7 linked regions of the Homo sapiens genome follow. The protein of the gene in region 5 interacts with the protein of the main gene of each other region in a biochemical or structural test. Each region holds a gene or a part of one and is shown on either strand. Other genes may lie near its edges. The genes, in order: URI1, IKBKG, RAC1, DAB2IP, AKT1, BLVRA and TTC3.

Region 1 (3,500 bases), on a different chromosome or scaffold from region 5:
GTCTAAAACTTTATGTAGAATTTTGGCAAACCATGCTATTGCCACCTAGGACATGCTTAAAAATAACATGCTGTGTTTTTGTTCTCACTCATAGGTGGGAATTGAACAATGAGAACACTTGGACACAGGGTGGGGAACACCACACACCGGGGTCTGTCATGGGGTGGGGGGAGGGGGGAAGGATAGCATTAGGAGATACACCTAATGTAAATGATGAGTTAATGGGTGCAGCACACCAACATGGCACATGTATACATATGTAACAAACCTGCACGTTGTGCACATGTACCCTAGAACTTAAAGTATAATAAAATAAATAAATAACATGCTGTGTTTTATTATTAGGCCAGAGAAATAGCTTTCAAAATAGTATGAAGATACCATTTGAGGCTATAAAATTATTGTGATTGTGACTATTTTAGATATAAGATTGTAATAAAAATTTTCAGATTAATTTCTAGAATAGATTCAAGGAAATTTTCAAAAAGTTGTTCTCAGTTTTATGAGTTACGTATAGTGAATGCATATGTGTTTTGAATATCACAGAGCCTTTGTTGATGTTGTGAATGGAGAATATGTCCCTCGCAAATCCATCCTGAAGTCTCGAAGTAGAGAGAATAGTGTGTGTAGCGACACTAGTGAAAGCAGTGCTGCTGAATTTGATGATAGGCGGGGAGTTTTGAGGAGTATCAGCTGCGAAGAAGCCACTTGCAGTGACACCAGTGAGAGCATTTTGGAAGAGGAACCACAAGAAAATCAAAAGAAACTTTTGCCCTTATCAGTAACACCTGAGGTGTGTGTGTGTATCTTTTAATTCTTTATTTCATATAGTATCTTTGACCAGTTTTAGCTATTTAATCTGAAAAGTCATAAGATTAAATTAATTCTAGGTTTTATACTTTCTTGGTACTAATTAATAAAAAATTAATAGTCACAAACAGTACAAATATTGTGATAATCAAATAGTTTATTTTTTGATAAACACATTACTTGTCTTAACGTTCTATTTCAGCAAAATGGGAAATTTAAAATGTCTTACTTGGCATTATGTATTACATTTGTAGCTAGGAAATTATTTCGCAGTTTATTTTAAATAAATTACCAGTAGGTCATTTTCTGATAGTGTAAGGAGCAGATTACATTATTCTCTTTTAAATACCTTGGCTAAGTTAAAGAAAAATAATGCATGCATAGCAGATAATTACCTAAAGTCTAATATTTTACCTTGTACCAGTGAAACTTAACTCTTGGGGGATTATGGAATTGTTTTATAATCTGATGAAAGCTGTAGACCCTGTCCATAGAAAAAATAGTGCACACTCAATACACTTTCACCCACCACACTTCTTACAGTTTTTGGTGGTGGTGCAGGGGAGGTTAGGAAATCCCCAAATAAGGATGTCTGTGAAATATAAGGCTATTGATTTCTTCATTCTTGTGTTTTGGTGCGTATTTGAAGTTTTCAATTTAAAAAGTATTTAGGAAGATTGGGGAACCCATGCCTGGATCAAACCAGTGTACACATTTGTATATACAATAAGATACATGCATATATATAACCTTATCTAAAAATTCCATTGCTTTTACTAAATGGTATTATACTCAGTGTATTAAATGGTAATTGGGGATGGAGATTGGTAGCATTTAGGGACAGTACATATGACTAGAATGTTTTCTTCCCCTCTTCTTAGTATAATGATCTTAGGTGACCTGGAAAGTATCTTACCTTATTTGATAGTCTTCCATACTGTTAGAAAACAGGTAATGGATGTTATCAGGTAATTGCTGATAAATGTTTGAAAATTAGTTTTTTGTAAGGACTTAGTGTATCATGGTACAGCTAGAGTGTGGAACCTATTTTTTATTTCACCCTTAGTAGCTTTGCATTTTGTATGGAAATGTTTAATAGTAGTTGCTATACATTTTTTAACATCAAAGAAATAGTTCATGATTATGGTAAGTACTTTGGAAGATATCCTTTTCAGTATCTTTTTAAATGCTAAAATACCTCTTTTTCAAAGGCATTTTAAATAGAAGAAGGAGAAGAAGGCTCTATGCTCATCGTGATAAAGTGGAGTTTTTAGGAAAGTAAGCTTTAAGCTGCTTTTACCAGTTGAACTCCAAAAATAATGTAGGAGAGAGATGGCTTTCTTTGTTTTTGTTTCAGTGGTGGGGCAAGGTAGAAGAAGGTGGCTTTTTAAATTATTTAGGTGTTACGTTGTTTTAACTAATTTTGAGCACTTGGTAGACAGAGGAGAACAAAATGTACATTAAAGTTCACCTGTCAAATTTTCATTTGTAGAGGGAAGGATGGAGGTTCTAAATACCAGCAATCTTAAAAAAAAAAAAAAAATTAACTCCTTGTGTCTTACCTATTTTTGTATAAAACGACATGTACAGATATTTCCAGCAATTTATGCACATTCTTTAATTCTGTTCCAGTTGAACATATAGTTGACCAGATTAAATGCAGCAAACATCCAGGTGAAATTGAGTCATTTCTTTTTTTGTGGAACTTCTGATTTCTGTCATTGAGTTAATTATATTAAAATTTTGAAACCTGTACTTATTCCTACTAGTATCAGCACTTTTATTTTTCAACTTCCACTGATCTTTTAAAATTGAGGCAATATGCAGTAAAATATTTAAATAATTGCATAAACACCACCAAAGAGATATCAGTTAGAAATGTCAGTACTGGTGAAACTAAGCTATTGGCTAGCAGGCAGCAAGGCCATCATAGGATAGCTCATTCATCAACTGATGTACAAAAGTCAGAGTTTGACACCCTAATAGCATTTTTATTTTAATACATTATTTTTCACAGCATGGGCTGGACATGAATGGAATGTATGAAAGTTTGAAGACCTTTTATTTATCCATTTCTTTTTTTTCCCAGATAAAATTTACATTTTACATTTTGTTTTCTTGCATGTATACTGTAAAAATTACTTCTGTTTGGTGGTGAAATTAAAACTTAATGGTGTTGGTTTCTCTGAACAATTAGTATTTTGGTGTAGTAGTGTTGTCTAGCCAAAAATCTCGTGAATTTACTTTTAATGAAAAGAATTGCCAAATGAGTGAATGGGAAGATTTTGTGGGTGTCTTATTTGCATTTTATTACCATAACCTGACTTTTGTTTTCTAGGCTTTTTCTGGAACTGTTATAGAAAAAGAATTTGTATCACCTTCCTTAACACCACCCCCAGCCATTGCTCATCCCGCACTACCCACTATTCCAGAACGAAAGGAAGTTCTGTTGGAAGCATCTGAAGAAACTGGAAAGAGGGTTTCAAAGTTTAAAGCTGCCAGATTGCAACAGAAAGACTAGGCCCTGTCTAGGAAATGGGAATTTACATCCTAAAACCTAGTTGTTCATTTGTTTAGAGTATCTATAGCAAAATAGGTTACATGTAGTTTGAAATAAGGTATCCTGAGTTACTTTGGCAACAAGTTCTTTTACCCTTACCCGTGGTATTTGAAAAAAATCAAGGTAACTG
Region 2 (3,500 bases), on a different chromosome or scaffold from region 5:
CCCCTAAGGGCCCAGAAGATGTCTGTCCCCCAAGATGTACATGCTTATGTCCATGGAGGAGGCTGTACTTAGAATGTTGAGGGAGAGATTCACGAAGAAGTTGCATGTCTCTAGTGTGTGACTCCACTAGTGTGAGACATGTCCAGAAGTGGCCAATCTGCAGAGGCAGATGCAGATGAGGAGGGTGCTGGGGGAGCGACTGCTTATGGGGTCCCGGAACTGTTCTGGAATTAGATAGTGCGGATGGTTGCACAACCTGATGGATACACCGAAAACTGCTGAATTAGTTAAAATAGTGAATTTGATGTCATGTGAATTTTACCTCAGTTCAGAACATTTTTTAAAAGACAAGTTGCCAGCCAGGTGCAGTGGCTCATGCCTGTAATCCGAGCACTTTGGGAGGCCCAGGCGGGGGGATCACCTGAGGTCAGGAGTTTGAGACCAGCTTGGCCAACATGGTGAAACCCCATCTCTACTACAAAAATTAGCTACAGACGTGGTGGCGGGCACCTATAATCCCAGCTACTTGGGAGGCTGAGGCAGGGAGAATTGCTTGAACCCAGGAGGTGGAGGTTGCAGTGAGCTGAGATCGCGCCACTGCACTCCAGCCTGGGCGACAGAGCGAGAGTCTGTCTCAAAAAAAAAGACAAGTTGCAGATGAGCTGAGCTTTGGGCAGAGCAAGCGGGATTCTGATGGGGGGTGGATGTTGCGCTCGTCAGCAGGCAATAGTTAGTTGGTTGAGGGTTTTGATCACGGGGTAGCTACTGCCTGCCCCATTTTATCCAGCTCTGTAGTTGCTATAGAGTTGCTAGAACCTTGGCACATCACTTATCAGTTTTGTCACCTCAGATGGCTTCTTCACTACTTGGGGTGTCTCCTGGGTGTGGGGCTCTCCTTCCTGTGGCCTCTGCTGACTGCCTGGCACTGGCACACATGCTCTGGTGAGGGGAGGACCAGCGGTTTTTCCCGTTTGTTTTCTGCTTCCTCGTTTAACCCTCCTCGTCTTGTAAGATGAATGTTCTTGTCTCTGTTCACTATGCAGATGAGGACTTTGAGGCTCAGAGACGCCACTAACTTGCCTGGTCCAAGCCTTTTGGGCCTCTCAGGCTGCAGCCAGCAATGCTGCAGTGAAGTTTGCCTGGGAGGCTGACCCTAGGAGTCTGCAGGCGTGTTAGGACCCCCGATCTAGAAGACAGCAGAGATGTAGGCCAGGGAGGACCAATACCGAGCATCTGAGGGCAGGCACACCTCAGACTGACCAGAATACAAATGAATTCGAGTCACTTACAAACAAAGTGGCATAAGGCCAGGCACAGTGGCCCATGCCTATAATCCCAGCACTTTCGGAGGCCGAGGTGGGAGGATTGCTTGAGGCCAACGATGTGAGACCAGCCTGGGCAACATAGCAAGACCTTGTCTCTACAAAAATAAAAATTCAAAAAAGTGGCATTTAACACATACTTTTTTTCTTTTTTTTGAGACAGAGTTTTGCTCTGTCCCCCAGGCTGGAGTGCAATGGTGTGATCTCGGCTCACTGCAACCTCCACCTCCCAGGTTCAAGTGCTTCTCCTGCCTTAGCCTCCCAAGTAGCTGGGATTACAGGCGTGTGCCACCACACCGGGCTAATTTTTGTATTTTTATTAGAGACGGGGTTTCACCATGTTGGCCAAGCTGGTCTGGAGCTCCTGACCTCAGGTGATCCACCCACCTTGGCCTCCCAAAGTGCTGGGATTACAGGCATGAGCCACAGTGCCTGGCCAACACGTACTTTTAAGTGAAGCTGATGTGTTTGGTGTTATTTTCTTGCAGAAAGTGAGGGGCATTAGTGTAAAGGATTTTGGAAGTGTTTAAAGAAACAAAAGGGAGTGTTGAGACGCCATCCACCCCTGAGAGAAGCTGCGTGGTATTATGGCGGGTGGGGGCACCAGGATGGGTGGCCCCACTTCTGGCCTCTGACTTCCTGAGCCTCAGGCCCATGTGGGCCCAGGCAGGGCCCGGCAGGCCGGGCTGCCCAGCTCCCCTCCACTGTCCCCTCTGCCACCAGATGCCATCCGGCAGAGCAACCAGATTCTGCGGGAGCGCTGCGAGGAGCTTCTGCATTTCCAAGCCAGCCAGAGGGAGGAGAAGGAGTTCCTCATGTGCAAGTTCCAGGAGGCCAGGAAACTGGTGGAGAGACTCGGCCTGGAGAAGCTCGATCTGAAGAGGCAGAAGGAGCAGGCTCTGCGGGAGGTGGAGCACCTGAAGAGATGCCAGCAGGTAGTCGGGGCAGGGCCAGGTTCTGAAAACCCGCGGTGACGCCAGTGTTCCACAAGGGAACCCGTGGTCGGGGTCCCCCAAAGCACCCTGGGGCTCAGTGCTGTGCCGGGAGGGCTCGGAACTCAGAAAAGCCGTCACACTCCCAGTTCCGGTTTATTACAAGGAAAGGACACAGGTTACGGTGAGCGAAGGCTCAGGGCGCACAGGGCGGGCTCCAGGAGAGACCAGGCGTGAGCTTCAGCGGCTCCTCGCCCAGGGGAGTTGTGCAGACGGCACCTGTTTCTTTCGGCAACAGTGTGGGACAGCGAGCACGGAGTCACAACCGGGAAGCTCACCCCAGCCGTGGCGGCCGGGGTTTTCACGGGGGGTGGGCCGCGTGGGCACCGAGCGCCTGCGTGGCCAACCCTGGTCACTCGGCTGTAGCCACCAGAGGTCCAGCTGTGTGGCCCAAGGCTCCCCCCATAAATCGTGTCATTAGCACAGACCGCCTGGTTTCAGGGTCTTTGTGTGTGGGCTTGGCTGATCGCAGGATCCTGGCGATGGTAGTCAGGAAGGGGCCGTGCTCCCTTTGAGGGGCAAGGTGGAGAGAAGTGCTGGAGAGGAGACTTGCTGGCGGGTACCTGGCACTTGCCACAGCCAGGCTCCACTCCCCTGGGGAAAGGCGTGGATGGTGGGCTGTGCACGCCGCTCCACTCAGGGCTTAGAGCGCCTGGCTTAAGGCGTTGATTTCCTGTGTGGGAAGTGGATGAGTTTTCTACAGCTGCCGTGACCAAGCACCACAGACTGCGGGGCCGAAGCCACAGAAACGCGTGGCCTCCCGCTTCTGGAGGCCTGGAGGCTGAGCTAGCGGTGGTGTCGGCAGGGTGGGCTCCCCGCCAGGGCCGCGAGGGAGCTGCCTTCCAGGCCTCTCCACGGCGCCGGGGGCCGCCGGCTGCACCTCTCCAGCCTCCATCTCCGTCATCCTGTGGCCTTGTCCCCGCGGGCCTCTGTGCCTGTCCTCCTCTTTTGACAAGAACACCGGAGATACACAAAGGTACACAAAAGCGGGCCTTTGTTCAAGCTGGCAAAAGAGATCTTCTTCAGAAACCCCTGCTTGCGGGGGAGAGAGCTGAGCTCCGTTCCCGCCCCAGCAGAGGCGGCCTGGCCTTGCGAAGGGAGAAGGAGGGAGTCGGGAGGGGGCGAGTGCAGGCTCAGGTGAAAGATGACGGGGCAGCCAGCGTCCTTGCCGCGAGGCCAGCCGTGT
Region 3 (3,500 bases), on a different chromosome or scaffold from region 5:
GGAGGTTGTAGTGAGCTGAGATTGTGCCATTGCACTCCAGCCCGTGCGACAGAGTGAGACCTTGTCTCAAAAAAGCAAAAACAAAAACTATTAGAGATACGTCTTTGGCCGGGCACGGTAGCTCAAGCCTGTAATCCCAGCACTTTGGGAGGCCGAGGTGGGCGGTTCACCTGAGGTCAGGAGTTTGAGACCAGTCTGGCCAATATGGCGAAACCTCGTCTCTACTAAAAATAGAAAAATTAGCTGGGCACGCCTGTAATCCTAGCTATTCAGGAGGTTGAGGCAGGAGAATCGCTTGAACTTGGGAGGTGGAGGTTGCAGTGAGCCAAGATTGTACCATTGCACTCCAGCTTGGGTGACAGAGGGAAACTGTCTTTTTTTGTTTGTTTGTTTTTAAAGGAGATACATCTTCATCTGTTCCTGCTTTGACCCTTTGCCTGGACCATGGCAGTGTCCTTTCAGGCTGTACGTCCCTCCATCCTGCCCTCCTGTGCCTCTGCTTACACTGGGCTCTTAAGGAAACTCCTGCTCCTTGTCTCATCATCCCTAGGGATGGTTCTGTCTTATCATTTCTAGAATTGGATGCCTTGCCATCTTGTTTGCTCCTTAACTCTGCATACAGGGCTGTGTAAATAATTCCTTCATGAAAATCTCTATTTCAATCTTCTGGGATGAGTTTTTTCCTTCTGGGACCCTGACTGATAGAGACTGATAATACACCCGTATGAAAATATGTCTGCCAGGTGCGGTGGCTCATGCCTGTAATCTCAGCACTTTGGGAGGCCGAGGCAGGCGGATCACCTGAGGTCAGGAGCTCGAGACCAGCCTGGCCAACATGGCAAAACCCTGTCTCTACTAAAAGTACAAAAATTAGCCGGGCGTGGTGGTGGGCGCCTGTAATCCCAGCTACTCAGGATGCTGAGGCAGGAGAATCACTTGAACCCGGAAGGCGGAAGTTGCAGTGAGCTGAGATTGTGTCACTGCACTCCAGCCTGGGCGACAAGAGCAAGGCTCTGTCTTGAAAAAAAAAGAAAAAAAGTCAGAAATAATTTGCAAAGCATGTTAGAAAATTCTAGATTTCCTGAATAGCAATTTAATTGAGATTGGCCAAGAAATATTACATAGGGTTGATACTCTTTTATTCTAAGATAGTCCTTTCTGAGCATGGGGTCTATAATTTTTTTTTCCTCCACCTTACTGCTGCCCCACCTTTTAACTTTCACTTAGTGGACCTTTGCCCCAAGATTTTCTCTCAGCTTTTCCTAGGTAAGACAGCATCACCCGGGCGCGATGGCTCATGCCTGTAATCCCAGAACTTTGGGAGGCCAAGGCAGGCGGATTGCCTGAAGTCAGGAGTTCGAGACCAGTCTGGCCAATATGGTGAAACCCTGTCTCTACTAAAAATACAAAAAAATTAGCCAAGGATGGTGGGGGGCGCCTGTAATCCTAGCTACTCGGGAGGCTGAGGCAGGGGAATTGTTTGAATCAAGGGAGGTGGAAGTTGCAGTGAGCCAATATCGTGCCACTGCACTCCAGCCTGGGTAACAGAGTGAGACTCCGTCTCAAAAAGGAAAAAAAAGACAGCATCTTACATTCAGGTATTTATAAACAACTTTTATTATTTATTTGTTTTTATTTTATATTGGCTCACTGCAGCCTCCACCTCCTGGGTTCAAGTGATTCTCCTGCGTCAGCCTCCCAAGTAGCTGGAACTACACGTGCCTGCTACCATGCCGAGGTAATTTTTTTTTTTTTTTTTTTTTTGAGAAGGAGTTTTCGCCCTTTTTGCAAAGGTTGGAGTGCAGTGGTGCGATCTCGGCTCACTGCAACCTCCTCCTCCTGGGTTCAAGCGATTCTCCTGCCTCAGCTTGTCGAGTAGGTGGGATTACAGTCACGCTCCACCACACTGACTAATTTCGTATTTTTAATAGAGACGAGGTTTCTCCTTGTTAGCCAGGTTGGTCTCAAACGCCTGACCTCAGGTTATCCACCTGCCTTAGCCTCTCAAAAAGTACTGGGATTACAGGCATGAGCCACTACGCCTGGCAATTTTTTGTATTTTTAATAGAGACAGGGTTTCACCATGTTGACCAGGTTGGTTTCGAACTCCTGACCTTAGGCGATCTGCCCGCCTTGGCCTCCCAAAGTGCTGGGATTATGGGCGTGAGCCATCGTCCCTGGCCTAAACAACAGTTTTATTATTTTATTTTTTATTTTTTTATTGCTTATTACTATTTTTTGAGATGGAGTCTCGCTCTGTCACCCAGGCCGGGGTGCAGTGGCATGATATGGGCTCATGGCAACCTCTGCCTCCTGGGTTCAAGCAGTTCTCCTGCTTTGGCCTCCCAAAGTGATGGAATTACAGGCCCGAGCCACTGCGCCCGGCCACAACTATTTTAATAGTGTTGTTTTGGTGTTGGTTGATTAAAGGAATGGGAACGAATGACTTGAAGCCCTCTCTGTTTCACTCTTTATACAAAGTGGAGTCCAGATTGGGCTAGTGGCCTGTCTAGCCCAATGTCTGACTTGGACATACATTACTGTCCAGGAGTTTCTTAGCTGAATGTGAAAAATGCCTTCCGTGACATCATCCTTACAGGAACATTCTTTACATTTATTCTTTACTTCTGTTGAACGGTGGTGGCGTGAACCATGAATTTGTTTAAGCTTTTCAGCTGTTTTGTGTGTTTTCCTCTCAAGGCATGGGGTTTCATATTTTTGACCTGTGGTAAAGGTATTTGAATTCTGCACTGGCCTCCAAATGTAGGTGTAGTATATGGCTCTGATCTTTGTTGATGATTTTATACATAATGTGGTTTTTTTTCTTGATAAGCCAAAAAAATTATACATAATGTGTGTGTGTGTGTGTGTTTTAATTTCAAATGATAGTTACAGTAAAAGTTTGGAGTTGGGCTAAGTGGGAGGAGCATCAGGAAGCCATTTTTAGAAACCTTAAATTCACCCTTTATAACTTTCTGTCTTTTTGCATTAGTCATCTGATACCTTAGTACTGCCTACTTTTTCACATCTCCATCACTACGTAGCTCTTAAAATTGTAGTCTTCCTTGAAAGGAGATGTTTTTGTCAAGAGTCTTTGCCACCAAGGCAGGATTGCATGTGATCAGTAGGAATATTTTCCTGCAATGTCTTAATATGAAAAATTTCAAACAGACTAGTGGAAAGCATTGTACAGTCAACATGCACATACCCATGGCCTGGATTCTATGACAGTATTTTGCTCTACTTGTTCATTTTGCTGTATTTGCTTTATCATGTCTTCCTGTTATCAGAGGGAACCTTTTAAGAGGATTTATAGAGGAGTTGATTTTGTTTTTTGTTTTGTTTTGTTTTGCTCTTTTTGAGGTGGAGTCTTGCTCTGTTGCCCAGGCTGGAGTGCAATGGCATGATCTCTGCTCACTGCAATCTCCGCATCCCAGGTTCAGGCGATTCTCCTGCCTCAGCCTCCTGAGTAGCTGGGCTTACAGGCACCCACCACCATG
Region 4 (3,500 bases), on a different chromosome or scaffold from region 5:
CCACCTGAGGGCAGGGCCCCACCCAGGGAGAAACTCAGGCTGAGGAAGCCACCCTGTGGCCTTTGAGCCAGTCCCTTCTGACCTTGAACTTCAGCCTCCCCATCCACATGGGGGCTTGGTCCCATGGTGTGGTAGCATCGGACCTCAGAGGAGTGGGTGGTGCCTAGCATCTCAGCCTGGATCAGACTCTTGCCCCCACACCCTTTCTGGCCTCTGGCACTAGCAGGGAAGGAAAATGACCAAGAACTCAGGCTGTGTATTTGTTCAGAAACAGAAAAATGCAAGGAAGAGTTGGTTGCTGCCAGGTTCTGCAGGTGGCCAGGCTGGGGGAAGGGAGCAGGGCTTTGTCCCTGGTAGGGCTGTGAGTGAGGGACAGTATCTGCAGTCTCCCTAGTTTGACCAATAAGGGACTTAGGTTCTTCCCTTTTCTGGGCTTCAGTTTCCCCATCTGAAGGATGGGCAGAGTGAGACCTGCTGTGGTGGGGGGTAGAGCACGAAGCTGGAGGGTAGCTGGAGGTGGGGTAGAAACAGTGACCTTCGGAGGGTGAGGGCCATTTGCATTTTCCCACTGTGTCCCTAACTCCACTTGAAGGCTGGGCATGTCCCATGGATTTGGGGGGATCCTTTCCCCAGAAGGGTATCATCAGCAAGGTGCCTCCCCACCTAGTCACACCAAAATCAAGAAAAGTTTTGTCTCTGACCCCTGTGTTTCCCCAGGGCTGCTAGGAGAAACAGAAATTTTCCTCTAGCCCTGGATAAAGTTCTGACCCATTCATTCAGCCAGTCAGCTCCTCTTAAGCACCTACTATGTGCTGGGCTTCAGCTTGGGTGCAGGGGCACATGGAGATGAATCACATGTGCTCCCAGCCCTTGCCAAGCCCCCAGTCTGTTGGGGAGGCCAGCTTGTTGGGGTGCACTAGGGCACAAGTCTCTTTCTAGGGGACAGAGCAGTGGTTAGTGGGAGGCAGGGGCTGTAGTTCCAGCTCAGCCGCGGACTGGTTGCATGACTGGGCACATCATAGGGCCTCAGTTTCCCCATCTGTCGAGGGGGGTTAATCTTGCTCTCCTGCCTCTTGGAATGCCTATACCCATAGCCATGAGGGGTTTTGATTATGTTGTTCATGTTTTCATCTGAGTTTTTCTAGGGGTCCAGCCACCTGCCAGGCCCTGGCTGGGAGCTGGGGGTTTTGCAGATGTTTTTCTCTTGAGATGGTCAGGTCCTCCTCCGTGCCTGTACACACCCCTCTTGCATGCCTCTGTATCTTGCCCGCGTGGTGGGAGAGGATGGTTTCATACAACTGGTTCCTAACCAAGAGAACAGTTAGGTAAGGACCTGTGTGCCACCATGGGGGGTGGGTAACTTCTCAGGGGACCCTGGCTTTTTTTTTTTTTGAGACGGAGTTTTGCTTTTGTTACCCAGGCTGGAGTGCAATGGCGCGATCTCAGCTCACCGCAACCTCTGCCTCCCGGGTTCAAGCGATTCTCCTGCCTCAGCCTCCCGAGTAGCTGGGATTACAGGCATGCACCACCACACCCGGCTAATTTTGTATTTTCAGTAGAGACGGGGTTTCTCCATGTTGGTCAGGCTGGTCTCGAACTCCCAGCCTCAGGTGATACACCCGCCTCGGCCTCCCAAAGTGCTGGGATTACAGGCATGAGCCACCGTGCCTGGCTGGGACCCTGGCTTTGATAAGGTCTGCAAGAGGCCTCTGGGGCAACAGCTTGGACTTCATGAGTTGGGCGAGCCTGAGAACAGCCCTGAGGTGGGGGGGTTTTGTGGTTCCCCAGTTTTCAAATGTTCCCTGCAAGGGCCCTAGGCCTGGCTCTCTGCCTCCACCTTGGATGACACCTGTGAAATCATTATGCCCTTTTCTGCCTTGTCTCTTCTTCTGTTTCTGCCAAGACACAATCTTTCATTTGGGGCTTGGCCCTAGCCTTTCCAGTCCCTCCTCTCCCTTACATACCTCAAGGATTGGGGAGCTCACTCCCTCTCAGGTTGTGTAATGAGGGTGAAAATGGCTCCTTTTTGTTACGGCTCCTGTGTGCTGCGTGCCTGCTCCATGCCTGGCAATGAGCTCAACTCTGAACTTGCCTTGTCTTATGCAGTGTTCAGAACAACACTGTGAGATGGATACTGATACTATCCTCATTTCATAGGTGAGGAGACTGTAGCCCAGAGAATGAAAGCTTTGCCCAAAGCCACACAGCTCAGAAATGGTGGAGCCCAGCTCTGCCCACCTCCAGGTCCTGAGATTCACCTTGCGATATCCGTGGGCAGGCAGACCTTTCTAAGGTCAGGCCCTGGCTTTGAGAAGGCCACCTCCCTTCACAGCCAATGACTTCACTGGGTGTTCATGGCAATTGTCTCTCACAGTCTTGGTCAAAGCTTGGGAGGGAGGCAGGGGAGTGGCCCCGTTGGCATCTGGTTGCCTCCTCCACCTGCCTGGGATAGCTCAGGTGGGACCTCCCCGGCCTGCCCCTGCCCCCTGGATCCTGCTGTCATTCATGACCTGCCAACCATGCCCTTTCCCAGGGCATGCGACAGGTCTCAGGGCCTCAGCCATGTTTCTCCACCAAAGCCCTTAGTGCTGAGGGTTCAGAGTCCCCTGGTGTGAGGTCCCTGGAGCCTGGCAGACACCTGAGGCCTAATCCCCAGAGCTCTCTAGGTCCTCGAAGGAGGCCACAGGCCCCAGTGAATCTGCTGGAATGTCAGCCTCTTGCCCTTGCCTTTGTCCTTCCTGACCCACCCTCATCATCTTTAATAATCAGGAAGAGAACAGCTCCCTTTCACCAAGCTGAATGTGTGCCCGGCCCCATGCCAAGAGCTCCCCCTGATTACCTCATGTCTCATCTCAGTTCTCCAATCCTCCTAGCAGGTAGGGGTTATTGTTGTCACTTTCCTTTACCAGGTGGGAAACGGAGCTCTGGGTGTGATATTTCCTCTGCATTTTCCTGTCGGGGTGGTGAAATAACTGGTTTGAACCCAGTCCACTGGACTCGAAAGCTCATGCTCAGAAGCCCCAGGGCTCCCTCTAACTTTCTTGGTTGCTGCAACTCAGAGAGCGCTGGAATGGACCCAGGGCATGCTCCTCATCTCAGCGGTTCAGGTTTTCATTCTTCTATCTCCATCCTTCTATTTAATTCTGTACTTACTAAGACCTGGGGGTACAGGGAGGGGCTTGGAGCCTATTTGCCCAGCTGCTGAATGGGGAGGTTGGAGAGATGGATACTTATGGCTCCAGTACCAGGAGCCAACTGTTTCCCTTGACAACTGGGGAAACTGAGGCCCACAGAGCCAAGGCCACTTGCCCGTGGTTACCTAAAGATGTTAACGAGAAATCCGGGTCTGGAACTCAGATCCCTTTGTATCCTGTTTCGGTGTTGGTGTAGTTTGTTGCTTTCCCTAAGATGAGCCCAGATAGGGAAACTGAAGTGCCTGGGCTCCTGGTTGGGTCTTCTGCGGGGAGAGAATGGCGATTCAACTCCCGTGTACTGTTGAA
Region 5 (3,500 bases):
AGAACCTGGGGGTCCAGCAAGTTCAAGGGAGTCGGAGGACCGCAGGCCTCAAAGAAAGGAGGGCAGAGCTACTTGGAGGGGAGGGGCCGATGCAGCACATGGGGATGGAACCTAAGGCCAGCCCCTGGTGGGCACCTCGCTCTGCACCACAGACCTGCCTGAGACAGATCCCAGAGGCCTGCAGTTACCCAGCCCTGCCACATACAGATGGCCCACAACTGGGCCCTAATTAGCCACTCAGTCACACCTGCATGCCCAACCCGTGTCTCTGGCTGCCACAGGCAGAGCTGGGCTCCAGGACAGGGACACAGAAAATGGGGACCATGCTGGGAGGCCCACGTGTCCCCAGCCTCCCACCTAGCAGGGCGCCTGGGTCTCCATGCCAGGGTTCCCGTCTGACATGGGTAGGGTCGCACCTGCCCCCGCTACAGGTAAGGAATAAAGCCACAGCAGGGCGGAGCAGGGAGCGTCACATGTCTCTCATCTCTGTGGGATGCTCCGGCCAAGGTCCCCCGCTGGCCTTTCTGCACCTGCCCCTCCATGGGCAAGGAGGCAGCCTCACAGAGGGGAAGCAAAGGCTCTGCCATGGGGTCTGGAGGCTGAGAGCCTGTGCAGGGAGAGGCACGAGCTCTTCCTCGAGTGATGGAGGCTTCAGAGCTGGAGACCCCAATGGACTCTTGCCCCCTCACCCAAGGGGTTTCCCAAGGAGAGGCCCTGATGGGCTCTATCTAACCCCCTTGGAGGAGGGGCCCCCGGGGCAGCTGTCCACCCTGAGACTGGGCTCTGCTGCCACTTGTCCGGACCCTCCAGCTTCCAGAGCATGGGCACCAGGGAACTGCTCCAGGGTCAGCCAGCCTTGGGACTCGGCCCAGAGACCCCCGCCCAGCCAGCCTCGGCCTCAGGACTCTGCCCAGAAACCCCTGCCCAGCCGGCCTCGGCCTCGGGACTCAGCCCAGAGACCCCGGCCCAGCCAGCCTCGGCCTCGGGACTCGGACCAGAGACCCCCGCCCAGCCAGCCTCAGGACTCAGCTCGGAGACCCCTGCCCAGCCAGCCTCGGCCTCGGGACTTGGACCAGAGACCCCTGCCCAGCCAGCCTCGGCCTTAGGACTCAGCCTGGAGACTCCCACCCAGCCAGCCTCAGCTTTGGGACTCAGCCCGGAGACCCCTGCCCAGCCAGCCTCGGGACTCGGCCCAGAGACCCCCACCCAGCCAGTGCTTGTTGCTTGCCAGCCCAGGACTTGGAGGCTCCAGGGGACCCCCATCGTGGGGCCTGGTGGGCAAAGAGGGCTCCAGCCAACCCCCCAAATCTGAATCCCGAGAGGCCAAGGGGATACTTACGCGCCACAGAGAAGTTGTTGAGGGGAGCCTCACGTTGGTCCACATCCTGCGGCCGCTCCTTGTAGCCAATGAAGGTGCCATCATTCTTGAGGAGGAAGTAGCGTGGCCGCCAGGTCTTGATGTACTCCCCTACAGACGTGCGGGTGGTGAGAGCCACGCACACTCTACCCGTCAGACCCTCGCCAGGCAGCCAGGCAGGAACTGGGTGTGCCAGGACAGATGTGCCTGGGATGCCTGAGTCCCAGGGGGCAGGCGCGGTACGGGAGCTGTTTCTTAGGGCCAGCGACAGAAACGGCCCTGGGTCAACGGGAAGGCAGACTCGCCCCACCACAGCGCCCCTCTCAGAAGAGCCACCCCGAGCTGTGTCTGAAAACGGGCTGGGCCAGCTGGACGCAGGGGATGGAGTACCATGGACAGGAGGCTGGGAAGAGGTCTGGGCCAGTCTGCACAGCCTTCCTGGAGGAGGCAGCCCTAAACCAGCCAGTCCCCAGCAGGCACCAGCAGCAGCTCGGGCCCCAGCTATGGCCACAGGGGCTGCGGGGCTGACAGCATTCCCCAATCAACCAGGGTCGGCCAGGTGGCGACAGCAGGTGACAGTGGCTTGTGTGGGCTGCCCAGCATGGCCGCCCCCCCCGCCCCGCCGCCACCCACCAGGAGGATGGAGCATGGCGTCCACAGTTAGAGGTCAGCACCACTCAGACTGAGGGCCGGGCTCGCGGGACAGGACTGCCCACTGCCGTGGGATCGCACTCCCTGTCTAGGGGCCTGGAGCACCGTCTTGGGGACTGCCGATGAAGCCAGACACGGAGGTGGCCCAGCCAGCTGGGCAGGGGCCCCAGGGCACAGAGGGTGCCAAGTCCCCAGGCTGAGACCCACACTCAGGCCCTGCCGCCGTCGGCCCTGCCGCGTCCCACCCGTGGGTCATTCAGGTACACGGGAACATTCTCCCTCAAGTTTTGCAGCATCAGCCGTACGCAGGCGTTCACACTTCAGAATCAGAGCAGCTGTCCTCGGTGATAGCCCAGCAAGTACCATTTTTCATACTGACACTCGGAAAAAAATGTTCCACTTACATTTTGCCAAGCAAGGAGTTTGAACAACAGGGAACTTACTAATTAGGCAACTGCTTCATCTGAGGGGTCACTGGGCAGGGGTTAGGGAGGGGGCCAGGGTAAGGGGTTGGGGTCCCTGAGCTCTGGGGCCTGGGTTTTCATGCCACACTGAGCCCCAGACAGGGACACCTGGAGGGATGTGGGGGACAAGCAATTGTCCCATCACCAGACCACCCACCACCCAGTCCTGCTGGGTCTTCGTGGTGAGCCCAGACGCGTCCAGCCCTCCCTGGTGCACAGGGAAGTCCCAGCAGGGCAGCAGCCCCAGGGGAGCTCAGAGGACATGGGTCATGGGCATCCCAGCAGGCATTCTACTTTCCAGGGAGCCACGGGGGAGTTCTTTAATAGAGGTGAGCCACCAAGGCTCGACACATGGCCACCCCCCGGCCAGGTGACCTCTCCCTCCTACCCCGGCCCCAGCTGCCCAATGCCCTTCCCACCAGCACCACGGGGCGTGGTCTCCACAAGACCAGCCCTCTCTCTGCCCAAGCCAGGGCTGCTGGGGGGATGCTGGTGGAGGGTGGGGACACCCCACCCAGCAGGGCCTGAGTGTGGGAAGAGGCTGTTGTCAGGTCTGGGGTGGACCAGGAAGGGGACAGCCACAGCCCACTCATAGCTGCCTGACACCTCTGGAGGACGGCCAACACCCAGTTGCAGGGAGGATGATCCAGGGCCCAGAATCTGCCCCTGTGCCCAAGAGCACTCATCAGGAGACCCCACCCACTCCGCAAGCCCTCCATGCCCCTGCCAGTGGGCTGCCGAGCAGGCGTGGTCCTGCCACCCTTGGGTGCCGGCTCCTGTCCCTGACCTGGGATCTCGCACACCCCCGAGTGTGCACATACACGCACATACGTGCCACGCAGCTCCACCCCGCCTCCCACGTCCCCTCCCCCAGCCACAGGGCCCCTGCAGGTGCAGCGGGCAGGCAGGGGCGCTCAGTGAGAGCAGAGCAGGCTCAGGGGGCTGCATGCAGCCCACCCCACCCGTCCCCCATCCTGGGCCACCCCGCTGCTCACGCCCACCCGCCTGCATGCCAGTCTGGAGCTGTC
Region 6 (3,500 bases), on a different chromosome or scaffold from region 5:
TGATATGTTATTGCCCTGTGAAAGTCTGTTCAGTTTGGGGCTAGGAGGGATGCAGTCAGTGAAAGTGGCATAGTTTGTAATGTTTTTTAGAGTTTTGAATAATTATGTTAACTAATCTTTATAGAAAAGTTTAAAGTGTACAGAGAAGCAAAAAGAAAGTAGTCACTAAAAGTTTCACCACTTAGAGACATAATTACTGGTAATATTTTGATGTATATATTTCCAGACTTGTGTCCCATGTAGCTATTATATTTTTCTCAATAGATCCCAAAGTATCCAACTCCCTCCAGGGCAAGAGTTGCTTTTACCTTTACCCTTAGACCTCTGAGGCTGGCAGCTGGCCCCACCTGAGAGGGTCACCCTCTCCCTAATCCTTCCCCATACTTCTGTGAGTCACCTGGCTTTGGGGCAATAATAGATACTTGAGAGGGCGTTTGAGGAGGAACAAGGAGGAAGGTCACAGCTGTAGTTCATTCTGCATGATGTGTAATCCAGGCTTTTTCAACTCTGGCACTGTTGACATTTTGGGCTGGATAATTCTTTGTGTATGTGTAGTTGGGGTAGGAAGGTGTCCTGTGCATCACAGGATGTTTTGCAGCATCCCTGGCCTTTCCCTACTAGATGCCAATGGCACATACCCTTTTCCCCCCGAGTACAACAATCAGAAATGTTGGTGAGAAATACTGGGTTAATGAAAATCACTAATTTATTGCTGACAAAGCTCTGGAGTTTCAGATTCCAATTTGCATGTGGGAAAGAGACTGAAATCAAAAGGGAAACATAATGTAAGCCAAGGAAGCTGTTTAGTCCTGGCTGTGCTATTAATTTACTGTGAGATTTTGCATCTCTCCCACGTGCAAATTGGAATGTGAAACTCTAGAGCTTTGTCAGCAATAATTTAGTGATTTCCATGAACCCAGTAGTTCCTTTTTTTTTTTTTTTTTTTTTTTAAGATGGAGTCTTGCTCTGTCACCCAGGCTGGAGTGCAGTGGGACGGTCTCGGCTCATTGCAACCTCCGCCTCCCAGGTTCGAGCAATTCTCCTGCCTCAGCCTCCCGAGTAGCTGGGACTACAGGTGCACGCCACCATACCCAGGTAATTTTTGTATTTTTAGTAGACATGGGGTTTCACCATGTTGGCCAGGATGGTCTCGATCTCTTGACCTCATGATCAGCCCCATGCCCGCCTCGGCCTCCCAAAGTGCTGGGATTACAGGCATGAGCCACCGTGCCCGGCCCTTAACCCAGTAGTTGTTACTGACATTTCTGATTGTCGTGCTGGGGGGAAAACGGTATGTGCCACTGGCATCTAGTGGGGAAAGGCCAGGGATGCTGCAAACTGATATACTGCCAAGTTTATCAGTTGGGAATCCCAACAGTGAAAAGCATAAAAATGAAAGGAATTTTAAGGAGACTTTTTATAGAAGAGTGGGCAGGATTGGAGGAGCCAACAAGTGATGGTGAGGCACACAGGGAAGAGCTTCAGTGGGCACCATCCCCTCTCTGGTTTGAAGGGGTAGGGAGGGGACCAGAGCTGGGAGGAGGGGGCTGGAATACTGCTGGAGGAGCCACTCCCTTCCAGACCTGCTGTGGCCATCACAGAATGCAGCCACTGCCAGAGCAGCAGCCTGAGGAACCAGGCAGGGGGAGCACAAGTACCCTAGCCTCTCTCTTTCTGTTTCTTGCCTGCCGATCTCCTCCACTGGCTAAACCCAGCTGGATGCTAAGAGTACAGTCAGCCTGCCTGCTGAGGAGGGACCACCAGGGACCACCATCAGCAAGGGATCCAATGTCTTTCTGCCTCTGCAGAATGAAGGTTGGGGCACGGGGGGCGCTCTACTTCTTAGGGATATTGTGGGAATAAAAGGAAATAGGCAAAAAATGTTTTTGAAAAACAAAGCACATACTGCGCACCCGTGGGCCACTACTGCTTTTGACCCCTGGCTCTGTTTCATGAAGTAATGTCGTGTCATTCTCTTTTTAGGTGCTACAGGATTTCTTTAGGTTTGTTTTCTGTCCACCATATTTCAACTCATGTGTGCTGTTTGTTGTGCTAAAACAAATATTTGCTGATGCCTGAGTGAATAGTTGAATATTTTATATAAGTCAAATTTATACGTAATGATTTTTCTTGTAACTTAGCCGTTTCTCTTTTACAAACTCAGAAAACCTCAGACTTTGAAAAGGCCTTGAAGTTCCTCACCTGAAATCTGAGAACTTGGAGCGCCTTAAAAAATCTAAAGGAAAACAAAACAGTGAAAGAACATGATATAGTCAGTGTAGAGAATAAAATTATTTATGTAATTAATATTGAGGATGCAGATAACACGTTGTGAAATCTTGCTTGTAAAAAATCTCGATCTGCTGAAGAAAGATGTTCTCTCTAGAGATCTTTGAAAGCATAATTATTGAGCTTTTAAAATGTTAGAAACAAAAGTTAGACCCACACATATTCTGGCGTGTGGAAGATTTGCATTCCTTCCCCTGCCCGCCCCGCCCCCGCACTTGTGAGTTGTGCCTGTGTACGCAGTTCCTGTAGCACTCGGCTGGGCAGAAATCATCTTTCAGCACTAAGGGAACATAGTTATGATCTGGACCTTCTGGGAGTGGTCAGTGCCCAAGAACAGGTATGGGACTCCAGAAAGTTCTGCTCTCAACCCTATTTTGAAATAGAGTTACACATTGTTCTACAATTATTTGAGTTAATAAGCAGCTCTTTTCAAACGTGATTATGCCCTTCCAAGTTTAAATACACTAGACTTTAGTGAAAGTAATTGACCTCATCTCATTTCTCTCCTGTTATATTAAGATCACTTTCAGTAAAAGGTAGAAGCTTTTGAAGTGGTGAGGAGGAGGTAGAGGAGGGACATAGAGCAGATAGGGGCTGGAAAGTGGGGTGGGGAAGAGAGTGGCTTCTCTTTGGCAGAGTACCAAGGAAAAGCCCTATCTGTACAGAACCTTTGTGCCTGGGAACTTGATGGCTGCAACCTGAGCCTCAACCTAGTTTGCTTGCGGAGCCAGAAGAGAAGCTAAAAACCTTCAGTTAACCAAGCCAGACACCAAGAAAGTTAAACCGAAAGAGAACCCCCCACCCCCCGCAAAAAAAAGAAGTAAAGTGGGTTAAAGTGATATGTTAGCACAGAAAGAGAACATAAGGGTCATCTAAGTTCATCTGCCCCCTCTTCTATTTCAAGGTGCAGAAACTAAGGCACAAGGGACCCCGTGTCCTGCTCTTGATCACATAGCTAGTGGGTGCCAAGCCAGGTCTAGAACTCTGTTCTCTGGGGTCACAGGCTGGCTCTTCATCCCTCTAGAGAGATAGCTCATCTGTGTGCACCTGAGCCCGTTGTGTTTCGGAGTCAAAGCAAATAAAGGCTCAAACTCCAAGACTGTTTTGCAGACCGGCTGCAGTAGATACGGGGGGAGGAGAAACCTGCTTTAAATTGCTTCAAGCAAGTTGTTTCTGCAAAGGTGTTGACTTTTTTCTTTCAACTTTCTAGT
Region 7 (3,500 bases), on a different chromosome or scaffold from region 5:
ACTCTTGAATGCATGGATATGTGAATTAGTCAAAACTGAATACGCTAGTCACACTTTGTATGTTCTCTGAGGGGCTGAATGTTTTGGTTGTTTTCCATTTTTTTTTTTATTGTGGTTGTCCTTTTTTTCTTTTAGTTAGAAATATACTGTGCCCATCTTTTCTAGGAAATAGAAAACGGTCAAGTTAAGTGTATATTTTTTTCAAACTAAACCTGGCTCCGAGCTTTGCACTGGGCATTGGAGAGGCCTTCAATGGCTCTTCCCCGGTCTGGCACTTCCTCTTCTTCCCTGACCCTCGAGTCATGGGCAGCAGTGGAGGGGCATGAACCCTCCTTCTGCAGCATCTGCCCCATCTCCTCCTGGGCCGAGTCATGCCTTGGGAGAGACAGCAAAACCCTGAACAGCAGTTCAAGGTCTTCTCAGCCTTGGGGTGATGCCTCCAGTGCCACTCCCTGAACTTGATCCCACTGCCAGGGCTGCCTGCATTCGCCCACTCCCTCAGCAGGGGTTTTTAGAGCATGAGTTTGAGCTAGGTTTTCTGCCAGCTGCTAAAGACCCAGATGGGACTCATTTTGTGCCTTCAAGGCGCTCAGAGTTAAGAGGCAGTGAGCTAGAGTAGAAGTTAATGGTGCAGTAAGGGTAAGTGCTGTGAGCTGCAGGGAGAACTGTGCCTGGAGTCCCAGGCGACACTCAGGTCTGCTCTCACATCGAAAGCACTGTCTATGCTCACCAGACTGTGAGCCGCTGAGGCCAGAGCCCTCCATTCATCTCTGCGTCCAGCACCCGACACCAACCCTGCCCATGGATGTTTGCCGGATGAGCCATCCGTTTGTTTTGTTTTGATTTGCACAAGTAATCCATGCTCATAGAAACTAGAAAATAGTAAAGAAAAAGATTAAATCTCCCTTACCCTGAGGCAACCACTGTTAACTGTTTTTCTAGGCATGTATGTATACATGCAGCCCCTTTATTAAAAAGTGAGTTATATATGATACATGTTGTCTTGTTAGCTGCTTTCATTCAGCAGGCTGTTGGGGCCAGCTTTCTATGTCAGGGATTATGGGCTTCCGTCATGATTTTCCTTTTGGCTACACAATAGCCCATTGTGTGGATGTGTTGGAATTTACTACCCTCAACTGTTAGATGATTAAATGTATGATTAATTCACACCATGCCATGTGATTATCCCATACTGTACTTTAGGTATGGTAATCTTCACCTGGGGATCTTCTGGTCACATAAAACAGTTTTTTCTCTGAGGAAATTAGAACTTTATACTTTTCTTTTTGTATTTTTATATTTTTTCTTAAGAAATGCTATTAAAAAATAAGTTGTTTCCTCAGACTGTTTAGCTGTAATTGTGAATAATTTGCCACCCTTTGTGGCAGAAGATGTTTGAAGGCCACTTGAAGGAAGAACTCGTGTCATAAAAACAACTGTAGTTATTCTTTACTATTCAGGTGTGTTTGTTTCCACAGGCACTGGGTGCAAGTTCCTGTGAAATATGCCACGAGGTGTTCAAATCAAAAAACGTGCGTGTGCTCAAATGTGGGCACAAGTATCACAAAGGGGTAAGAGCTCTTTTTGGCCATCCTTACAGCATGCATTGGGACCTTCAAATATTTTCAAAATAAGAAAGGAATTGTTTTCTAGTCATCAGTATTTATTGTGCTTTCAAACTATTTTCTTTGCAAACCTCCCGTGTCAGTGTTCAGTGCCTCCCTGTCCTCACACCAGCTCTGCAGGAAGGGCAGCTCTGGAGACCGTCCTTTCCATCCCTTGTGGGGAGAGGGGAACAGCAGCTCCAGCCACTCGTTAGTGCTGAGATTCAAAGCAGTATTAGTTCCTTGAAAGGTGATTTCTTACACACTTGACTAAATGGAGAAACAGTGAAACCATTTTTTTGACTTAGTGTAGTATATGAAGTCAGTTTAACATTTTAGAGGAGAAAAACTAAACCTAGCTGAGTCCCTTCTGCCTGACCCAGGGACAGTCCTGCTCGTACCGTTCTGGGATCTGTGTGTGAACTATCATGGTGTTCTAGGTACCGTGAGCATTTGTGTGCACCCCTGCTGCTGGGTTAGAACAGATCAGGTCTCTGCCATGGGGATTTGCTAATCCCTTGGAACGGGATAAATACAGCATGCTCACTGAAAGGAATTGAGACCACTTGCCAAGTCTCTGGTGTGGTGTGCCTCCTTGGGTACAGGGTCTTATATTTGGGCTAGCTGACTGTCCACAGCCTCTGCAGTGTGGGCAGCAGCAGCAGGAGTGTGGCGTGCAGGCTGGAGGGCTGTTCCAGAGCCAAGGGCCAAGGCCAGGCCAAGGGATGGGCTAAGAATGAGTGATTGGGTCATAGGGCCGAGAATGCCAGGCTCTGGAATTTGGCGCAGCTGAAGTGGAAGAGCCGAGCCTGGAACCGGGGATCAGGGCAAGACCACCCCCTGAGGCCAGGTTGGAGGCCCAGAGCGCTCAGGATCTGACCCTGAGGTGGGATCGTTTGCGGCTGGGGCTTTGTCCACACTCTGGCCTGAGCGGGTGTTGGTGTCCCTGAGTATTGGGCAGCTCCAGGCCCAAGAGACCAAGGGCAAGTGAGCCACGCCTGCCAAGGAGCCCAGCAGCACAGGGGAGCTAAGCTTCCTCATGGTCCTGAAGGCATCTTCTGATTTTGTTTTCTCCTTTTCAGTGCTTTAAGCAGTGGCTTAAAGGGCAGAGCGCTTGCCCGGCCTGCCAGGGTCGTGATCTCCTGACAGAAGAGTCACCTTCTGGAAGAGGCTGGCCCAGTCAGAATCAGGAGCTGCCTTCCTGCTCTTCTAGGTAGTCACACTTCACTAAAGTGTCATCCACCAGTGTGTTGAATCCGAAGAATGACAATTTTCTACCACTGGTGTAAAAAACAAACATTTGAAGACCCTTGTGCATTGTGTGTCACAAAGCTAAATACATGGAAATCGTTAATATCGCTGATATTAAGTAATTTCCCCACTCTGAGTGAATACTTTGATGATTGCCAACAGTGGCTAATAAAATGACGGCTACCACACTCATGGGTCACTGGGGCTGCGCAGGGCTCTTTGAGGTGGGTGGCTTCTTTTGGAAAGTACTATGAACGTCTCGAAGCAGTATTCTAGTGATAAGAATTCTTAACATAGCCAAGCGCCCCACGTTTGTTCCCCACGTTTGTTCCCCTTTTCTGTTTGAAAAACCTGTTCTGGTAGCTCCACAAGAGAGATGATACTGACTTTTTAAATTTTTTACAAGAGTCTGTATTCCTGATATGCCTATATTTTTCCTCAAAGATTCTGCATTTTAAGGATGGGCATAAGCAAACTATATTTTAATAATTTATAGTTAATGTTAAAATATTGGCTGATTTAGACCAAAAGATTCAAATCTCCTCTTTGTGAAATCCCATCTGCATTTGATTTTTTATTATTTTATGTTCCCCCGTTAGATTGTTTTAAGTGTTTGCTTTTCATCTTTTATAGATGTAATCTGAT

Evidence for each region.
Region 1: of the proteins of AKT1 (region 5) and URI1, one has a biochemical effect on the other in vitro, tested with the Homo sapiens proteins (one large-scale study listed by BioGRID).
Region 2: the proteins of AKT1 (region 5) and IKBKG form a complex in vitro, tested with the Homo sapiens proteins (one study listed by BioGRID and IntAct).
Region 3: of the proteins of AKT1 (region 5) and RAC1, one has a biochemical effect on the other in vitro, tested with the Homo sapiens proteins (one study listed by BioGRID).
Region 4: of the proteins of AKT1 (region 5) and DAB2IP, one has a biochemical effect on the other in vitro, tested with the Homo sapiens proteins (one study listed by BioGRID).
Region 6: the proteins of AKT1 (region 5) and BLVRA form a complex in vitro, tested with the Homo sapiens proteins (one study listed by BioGRID).
Region 7: the proteins of AKT1 (region 5) and TTC3 form a complex in vitro, tested with the Homo sapiens proteins (one study listed by BioGRID and IntAct).

The regions. Positions count from the first base shown.
Region 1 is NC_000019.10:30,011,739-30,015,238, forward strand, and holds part of URI1 (unconventional prefoldin RPB5 interactor 1), read left to right. Parts: intron 1-546; coding exon 547-793; intron 794-3,148; coding exon 3,149-3,331; 3' UTR 3,332-3,500. UniProt on the Homo sapiens protein: Involved in gene transcription regulation. Acts as a transcriptional repressor in concert with the corepressor UXT to regulate androgen receptor (AR) transcription.
Region 2 is NC_000023.11:154,554,120-154,557,619, forward strand, and holds part of IKBKG (NF-kappa-B essential modulator), read left to right. Parts: intron 1-2,045; coding exon 2,046-2,257; intron 2,258-3,500. UniProt on the Homo sapiens protein: Regulatory subunit of the IKK core complex which phosphorylates inhibitors of NF-kappa-B thus leading to the dissociation of the inhibitor/NF-kappa-B complex and ultimately the degradation of the inhibitor.
Region 3 is NC_000007.14:6,377,527-6,381,026, forward strand, and holds part of RAC1 (ras-related C3 botulinum toxin substrate 1), read left to right. Parts: intron 1-3,500. UniProt on the Homo sapiens protein: Plasma membrane-associated small GTPase which cycles between active GTP-bound and inactive GDP-bound states.
Region 4 is NC_000009.12:121,654,634-121,658,133, forward strand, and holds part of DAB2IP (disabled homolog 2-interacting protein), read left to right. Parts: intron 1-3,500. UniProt on the Homo sapiens protein: Functions as a scaffold protein implicated in the regulation of a large spectrum of both general and specialized signaling pathways.
Region 5 is NC_000014.9:104,778,749-104,782,248, forward strand, and holds part of AKT1 (RAC-alpha serine/threonine-protein kinase), read right to left. Parts: intron 1,469-3,500; coding exon 1,340-1,468; intron 1-1,339. UniProt on the Homo sapiens protein: AKT1 is one of 3 closely related serine/threonine-protein kinases (AKT1, AKT2 and AKT3) called the AKT kinase, and which regulate many processes including metabolism, proliferation, cell survival, growth and angiogenesis.
Region 6 is NC_000007.14:43,761,680-43,765,179, forward strand, and holds part of BLVRA (biliverdin reductase A), read left to right. Parts: intron 1-951; exon of another isoform or gene 952-1,095; intron 1,096-2,525; exon of another isoform or gene 2,526-2,626; intron 2,627-3,500. UniProt on the Homo sapiens protein: Reduces the gamma-methene bridge of the open tetrapyrrole, biliverdin IXalpha, to bilirubin with the concomitant oxidation of a NADH or NADPH cofactor. Does not reduce bilirubin IXbeta.
Region 7 is NC_000021.9:37,198,754-37,202,253, forward strand, and holds part of TTC3 (E3 ubiquitin-protein ligase TTC3), read left to right. Parts: intron 1-1,478; coding exon 1,479-1,571; intron 1,572-2,686; coding exon 2,687-2,821; 3' UTR 2,822-3,500. UniProt on the Homo sapiens protein: E3 ubiquitin-protein ligase which catalyzes the formation of 'Lys-48'-polyubiquitin chains. Mediates the ubiquitination and subsequent degradation of phosphorylated Akt (AKT1, AKT2 and AKT3) in the nucleus.